2 linked regions of the Homo sapiens genome follow. Changing the gene in region 2 together with the main gene of any one other region gives a genetic interaction. Each region holds a gene or a part of one and is shown on either strand. Other genes may lie near its edges.

Evidence for each region. A genetic interaction does not mean that the proteins touch.
Region 1: changes in KEAP1 (region 2) and TBKBP1 together harm fitness more than expected from each alone (negative genetic interaction), as found in Homo sapiens cells (one large-scale study listed by BioGRID).

What each region holds. Positions count from the first base shown.
Region 1 is NC_000017.11:47,692,800-47,696,960, reverse strand, and holds the start of TBKBP1 (TANK-binding kinase 1-binding protein 1), read right to left. Parts: upstream 2,801-4,161; 5' UTR 2,767-2,800; exon of another isoform or gene 2,298-2,766; intron 2,212-2,297; exon of another isoform or gene 883-2,211; 5' UTR 849-882; coding exon 624-848; intron 251-623; coding exon 128-250; intron 1-127.
Region 2 is NC_000019.10:10,493,357-10,496,856, forward strand, and holds part of KEAP1 (kelch-like ECH-associated protein 1), read right to left. Parts: intron 1-3,500. UniProt on the Homo sapiens protein: Substrate-specific adapter of a BCR (BTB-CUL3-RBX1) E3 ubiquitin ligase complex that regulates the response to oxidative stress by targeting NFE2L2/NRF2 for ubiquitination.

The sequences.
Region 1 (4,161 bases), on a different chromosome or scaffold from region 2:
CTTAGGGAGGACCTGGCCATCTCTAATCAAAGGGCAGAGGCCAGATGCTGGGGGGTGTGGAGGGAAGGGTATCAGAAACAGACTGGAGCAAGATGCTCAGGGGGTGCGCCCAGCCTGGTAGGCTCACCTCATGCTGGAACTGGTTGAGCCGTTGCTGCAGGCTGACCTTCTCCACCTCCAGCAGGGAGCCATCCTTGATTTCATACAGAGAAAAGCCATGCTCCTCTCCAAAGTCACTGATCAGTGGGTACTGCAGGTGGGGTGGAGCTTCAGGAGAGTGGATTCCCGGGTGCCCAGCCCAGGCCTCAGCCTGGCTGTGCCCCCAACCCACAACCTGCCTCAGACCTTTGACCCTCCTTCTCCTTGGCTAGTGGGATCCCAATTCCCATGGGTCTGTAGCCATCTCCCACCCACCGGATCTGTTTTAGATCCCAGATCCAGCCCTTCTGAAGCCAACAGGAGACAGTTCGCATCCGGAACAGCCACGTCTCTCATGGGAGACCCTCAAGTTCCCAAGAGTCTGCACAGTGACCCCTCTTTTGGATCCCTGGTATCTACCAGATTCCCAGTCCCCCTCCCCATCCCATACACTCTATCAGGCGCCCTCCTCTCCAAGTTCTGACCTTGATCTCGTAGACTTTGAGGCGGCGTCGGAGGGTGGCGTTCTCCCTCTCCAGGCCCCCCAGCCGTTCCTTGATGTCTCCGTAAGCAGTGATGAGGGCAAAGTGGGAGGCGGAGCACATGTCGCCCCCAAGCGAGGGGTCTCCGGGACTGTCCAGCCACACCTCACTAGGCCCCAGGGCCTCCTGCGTCAGGATGCTGATGTCGTCCTCGAACATGGACTCCATGGTGAGGGCCGGGCCGCGGCCCACACGGGGCCTCCTAGGAGAGCAGGAGCAACCGTGGACAGGGCCGTCTGTCTAGGGTTTGTCCCTGGTACCCCTCTCCCTGGCTCTGCACTCCCTGGGGCCGGCTAAGATGCAACCCAGAAACTTCCTGCCCCGAGCTCAGCAGGGACTCCCATGGCCCCTTCCCAGACTCCTCAGCCCCATCCTCTCTGCCGCCTTGGGGAAAAGGGGCTGGAACCAGGTGAAGACCCCGCTGCCAGGGTGTTGACAAGTAGGGACAAGTAAGCCAGGCCGGCAGCAGGGGCAGGCTCCTGCCAGAACCCAGGGAGACCTGTGGATGGGAGAGGGCTGCCTTCCCAGCCGGGCCCGGCCCATTCCTCCGCGCTTCTCCACCCCAGGCCTTACTTCCCCAAATACCTCGCCGCCAAGCTCCTCAGCCTGGGCCTCTGGCACCCCAGCTCCTCCCCAAGGAAGGCCCAGAGCTGCGCGAGGGTCGGCCCCTCCACAGTCGGCACGCCCTCGGCTGCACCCCCGCCCAACTTCCCCACTTCCTCCCGCAGGATCCCAGAGTTCAGGAAAAGGAAGCGCCTCCCCCGGGCGCACCGGGGCTGTGGCAGCGGTCCAGGACCCCTTGGCCCCTGACCTGGGACCCACAGGAAGTCCTTGGCTGAGTGTTACGGGGCGCAAACTGGGGAAGGGGACCCAGGTGGAAGGGGACGCGAACGAATTCCCAAGGCTGTCTCAGGGTGCCCGCGCACCGGGAAATGGGGAACCCTACGAGGGGGCAGGAATGACTCAGGCTCCCGAAAGCAGGAGTAGGCAGTGAGGGGGTGCGTGTGTACTTCTCTCGGGCCTGGTTATGAATGTGTGTCTGGGGTTGGCGTATGGGGGGAGTGTGCGTCTGTGAATGAGTGTAGGTGTGTCAGTCAATGAGTGCCTTCGGGGTCGCAGGGGCGTCGGGACGGAGTGGGGCAGCGACCAGGAGGCTGGTGTGTGCACGCGTGCGTGAGCGCGTGGGCAGGGTGGCACGTCCGGGCCGCGTGTCACGTGAGACGCGAGGGGACTGTCCGAGGTGTGTGCGCGCGCTGGAGCGTTATGTGCACCCCGGAGAGGGGGCTCGGCAGGGAGCTGTGAGTTCAGACAGCGGGGCCCCCAGGTCGGGCTGCAGGAGCTTGGGGTGCAAAGGGCTCCGGCGCAGGCTCCAATTCAATCCACCCCCCCCCCTCCGCCACCCACAGGCCCATCTAAGTGCCAGGGAAACGCGAGTGACTGGGTCTGAGTAAGGAGTGTGTGCGCGCGTTTGTAGGGCCGGCCCCACCTTTAACCCTCTCCTTCCCACGCCATCCCCTCCCCCCAGCTCCGCGCGCCAGCGCTTACCACACCCCCCCAGACCCCCGCCCGCCCCTCTGCGCCCACCCCGCTGGCGGGGCTCTGTCCCCGAGGCCGCACCACAAATGCCTCCTTCCTCCGCATTCCTCTCTGGGCCCAGCGCCCGGGTGAGCGCAATGGAAGGCGGCTGGGGAAGGGGTGAGTGCCTCTGTCGGCCCGGGCCCCTCCTGCGGCCCCTTTAAGAGCCGCCCTTTAAACCCCTTTCGCTCGGCCGACAGAAATTGTCGCCCCTCCCCTCTCGGGGGCCGAGACCACGCAGCCCCCTCCCCCACAACCGGCCGAGCCCTGGGCCCCCGGACACCCTCTCGGGGCCGGGGAAGGGGCTCCGGGAGTGGCGCGGCCTGAGGAACGGCGGCGGAGGGGGACGCGAGGGGATGAGGGCGGCCGACACCGGACCCCTTCCCTCCCAGCCATCCCGTGCGGCTGCCAGCCGCCCTCCTGCCGCCTCCTCCTGCCCACCCCGCGACCCCTGGGGCCCAGCCCGGGCGCCGCTCCCCTCCCCCAGCCCTAGCCCCAGCCGGGGACTCACAGCTGCTGCCGGTTCCTGCTTGTAATCGCAGCTTACCCCCTCCGCCTGCTCCCTCCCCAAACGGGCACCAGTGCCCCCACCCCCCTGGTACCGCGCTCTGCTCCTCGCCCTGTCGCCGCCGCCGGGTCTCTCCCCACCCCCCACCCCTCCCCCCAACCCCCTCCCTCCCGTCCGCCCCGCTCCTCCTCCGCCGCCGCCGCCTCCTCCGCCTCCTCCTCCCCGGCTGCTCCGGGTTTCTCCAGCTGGGAAGGCGCCCCGGACCCCGCCGCTGCCACCACCACGTGGCGAGAGGCGGCGGCCCCTACGGTGCGGCCCTTCCTGGCAGCGCGCCCGGAGCCCACCGGCTCCCTGCGGCGCCAGCGGCCCGCGCTGGCGCCCCCTCCCCGACGCCTCCCGGCGCAGTGTGGCGTGGTGGCGTGTGTTGGGGGCGTCTGCGGTCAGTGCAGGGGCCCGGCTGATGCTTTGGTTGTTTTGGTTGTTTAGTTATGGGCTGTATATTTGGGGAGGAAGTGGGGCTATTTATCTGGCTTTTTTTTTTTTTTTTTGGTCTTTGCGCTTTTGAGAAGGAAATCATTAGACCTGCTCTTCGTTGCTCTTGGTAAAAGGGGCATTGCTGCGATAAATACATTGAACATAGGGTACAGAGAGATTAAAGCTGTAACTTCTTTGGAAGTGAGAGTAAACTAAGGAGGTCAAAGATTCATTCATGAAGAAGGACAGCCATCTCCCTCCCCACACACCACTCCCCGGCCACCCTCAAGTACCCACAGGTCAGGGAAATGAAGAAACAACAGATGTCACCCTGTGCACAAAGATTATTTGAGCACCTGCCAAACTGCTGGGCAAGAGAAACAAGTTTTTTGCTACTTTCCTGCTGTGTGACCTTGGGCAAGTTACCTTAACCTTTCTAAGCTGGAGATCATGCCCCACCTAAGCACTCTCATGGAGGAAGAATGGGGATCAGAACTAAATACAGCAGCCTGCGAATGCTCAGGAAGTGTTAACGATGTCATTTTGAGTATTGCCTGGTGGATTAAATAATGTGGACAGAGGCATGGTCAGCCTAGCTGCAGGTAGAGAATGATCAGGGGAACCCTGGAGCACTCTGGCTGAAGAGCATCCTCTGTGGACAGGGAGGCAAAGCCCGGAAGCAGGGGATAAGCTGGGCGGGGGCTTTTGGCAGATTCAGCCTTAGCTGCGAAGACTGCTGGGAACCTGAGCCTACCTTTTTGGCTCCTGAGGTGGGATGGGGGTGGGAATCTCCGAGGGGGAGGATGGAAGGAAAAGGTTTCTTGCTCTCTCTGAGCTTTGAAAAGCAGCAGCTGCCATCTTTCCTCACTGCTGGGAGAAAATTGGACTGAGAGGTGAGCTTCTACCAGGAGAGCCAGCCAGAGC
Region 2 (3,500 bases):
TTTCACCGTGTTAGCCAGGATGGTCTCGATCTCCTGACCTTGTGATCCACCCGCCTTAGCCTCCCAAAGTGCTGGGATTACAGGCGTGAGCCACCGCGCCCGGCCATTTTTTTGTATTTATTTTTAGTAGAGACGGAGTTTCACTATGTATTTTTAGTAGAGATGGCATTTCTTCATGTTGGCCAGGCTGGTCTCAAACTCTTTTTTTTTTTTTTTTTTTTTTGAGATGGAGTCTCGCTCTTTTGCCCAGGCCGGACTGCAGTGGCGCTATCTCGGCTCACTGCAAGCTCCACCTCCCGGGTTCACGCCATTCTCCTGCCTCAGCCTCCCGAGTAGCTGGGACTACAGGGGCCCACCACCGTGCCTGGCTAATATTTTTTGTATTTTTAGTAGAGACGGGGTGACTGTGTTAGCCAGGATGATCTTGATCTCCTGACCTCGTGATCCGCCCGCCTCGGCCTCCCAAAGTGCTGGGATTACAAGCGTGAGCCACCTCGCCTGGCCAGTCTTGAACTCTTGACCTTAGGTGATCTGCCCATCTCAGCCTCCCTAAGTGCTAGGATTACAGGCGTGAGCCACCGGACCTGGCCTGTTTTTGCTTTTGAGACACAGTTTTGCTCTGTCACCTAGGCTGTAGTGCAGTGGCACAATCATAGCTCACTGTAGCCTTGAACTCCTGGGCTCAAACGATCTTCCCACCTCAGCCTCCTGAGTCGCTGGGACTACAGGTGTGTGCCACCACGCACAGCTAATTTTCATATTTTTATGGTAGAGACGGGGTTTCACCATGTTGGCCAGGTTGGTCTGGAACTCCTGACCTCAAGTGGCCCACCCCCTTGCCTTCCAAAGTGCTGGGATTACAGGCATGAGCCACCGTGTCCGGCCGTTGGTCTTAAACTCTTGAGCTCAAATGATTCTCCTACTTCAGCCTCCTGAGGATTACAGGTGTGCATCACCATACCTGGCTTGGCTTTTTTTTTTTTTTTTTTTTTGAGATGGAGTCTCGCTCTGTCGCCCAGGCTGGAGTGCAGGGGTGCAATCTCGGCTCACTGCAAGCTCCACCTCCCGGGTTCACGCCATTCTCCTGCCTCAGCCTCCCGAGTAGCTGGGACTACAGGCGCCCACCACCACACCCGGCTAATTTTTGTTTTTGTATTTTTAGTAGAGACGGGATTTCACCGTGTTAACCAGGCTGGTCTTGAACTCCTGACCTCAGGTGATCTGCCTGCCTCGGCCTCCCAAAGTGCTGGGATTACAGGCCTGAGCCACCGCGCCTGGCCTCTGAGTTTTCTGTTTGTTTCTTTTTTTTTTTTTTTTGAGATGGAGTCTCGCTCTGTCGCCCAGGCTGGAGTGCAGTGGCACGATCTTGCCTCACTGCAAGCTCTGCCATCCAGGTTCATGCGATTCTCCTGCCTCAGCCTCCGAGTAGCTGGGACTACAGGTGCCCACCACCATATCCAGCTAATTTTTTGTATTTTTAGTAGAGACGGGGTTTCACCATGTTAGCTAGGATGGTCTCGATCTCCTGACCTCGTGATCCGCCTGCCTCAGCCTCCCAAAGTGCTGGGATTACAGGCGTGAGCCAACGCGCCCGGCCTCTTTTGTTTCTTTTTTTTTTTTGAGACAGAGTCTCACTCTGTCGTCAGGCTGGATACAGTGGCGTGATCTCGGCTCACTGCAACCTCTGTCTCCGGGTTCAAATGATTCTTCTGCCTCAGCCTCAGCCTCCTGAGTAGCTGGGACTACAGGCACGCACAACCACACCCGGCTAATTTTTGTATTTTTAGTAGAGATGGGATGTCTGAGTTTATTTTTTAAGAGACAGGGTCTTGCTCTGTCACCTATGGTGGAGTGCAGAGGTGCCACTGTAACCTCAAATTCCTGGGCTCATGTGATTCTCCTGCCTCAGCCTCCCAAAGCACTGAGATTATACGCACGAGCCAACTCACCCATCTTGTTTTTTAAAATGAAATCATTTTCTAAAATGGCAAATAGACTAAAAAAGGAAAAAATAAGCAATCACAATAGAATGTTGTGGAAAAAAACAAGTGACAGCTCTGGGCCAGCACAGTGGTTCCCACCTGTAATCCCAGCACTTTGGGAGGCCAAAGCAGGCGGATCACCTGAGGTCAGAAGTCCGAGACCAGCCTGGCCAACACGGTGAAACCCCGTCTCTACTAAAAACAAAAAAATTAGCCAGCTGTGGTGGTGGGCACCTGTAATCCCAGTTACTGAGGAGGCTGAGGCAGGAAAATCGCTTGAATCCAGGAGGCAGAGATTGCAGTGAGCTGAGATTGTGCCACTGTACTCCAGCCTGAGCAACAGAGTGAGACTCCATCTCCAAAAAAAAAAAAAGTGGAAGCTCCGAAGAAACCAGCATGAGTTGGAATTTTGATCCGACCACTTCGTAGGTGTGTAACTTGGGCAAATCTCTGAAATGCTCCATGTCTTGGTTTTCCTCCTCTGTAAAATGGGATTATATTAATGGCCACCTCAAAGTAAGGCTACTTCTAGGGTATACAGAGCCCTGGATAAATATTTCTTGTAGCCAGGTGTGGTGGCTCACGCCTGTAATCCTGGTACTTTGGGAGACCAAGGCGGGAAGATTGCTTGAGCCCAGGAGTTTAAGACCAGCCTGGGCAACATAGCGAGACCTCATCTCTACCAAGAAAAGATATAAAAATTAGCCAAGCATGGTAGCTCACGCCTGTAGTCTCAGCTACTCAGGAGACTGAGGTGGGAGGATCACTTGAGCCCAGGAGCTGGAGTTTGTGATAAGCAGAGATCGTGCCACTGAAGTCCAGCCTGGGTGACAGAGTGAGACCCTGTCTCTAAAAAAAGAAAAAAAAAAAAAAAAGGCCAGGTGCGGTGGCTCACACACGTAATCCCAGCACTTTGGGATGCCAAGTCGGGCGGATCACTTGAGGTCAGGAGTTCAAGACCAGCCTGACCAACATGGTGAAACCCCATCTCTACAAAAAATACAAAAATTATCTGGGCATGGTGACACATGCCTATAATCCCAGCTACTTGGGAGGCTGAGGAATGAGAATCACTTGAACCCGAGAGGCGGAGGTTGCAGTGAGCCGAGATCATGCCACTATACTCCAGCCTGATGACAGAGTGAGACTCTGTCCCCCACCCCCAAAAAAAAAAAAAAGGGGGCTTGGCGTGGTGGCTCAAGCCTGTAATCCCAACACTTTGGGAGGCTGAGGTGGGCGGATCACGTGAGGTAAGGAGTTCCAGACCAGCCTGGCCAACATGGTGAAACCCTGTCTCTACTAAAAATACAAAAATTAGCCAGCGTGGTGGTGCACCCCTGTAATCCCAGCTACTTCGGAGGCTGAGGCATGAGAATCGCTTGAACCCAGGACATGGAGGCTTGCAGTGAGCCGAAATCTTGCCACTGCACTTCAGCCTGGGCGATAGAGCCAGACTCAGTCTCAAAAACAAAAAAGGACTGGGCGGTGGGGGGCGGGCGTGGGCGCAGTGTCTCATGC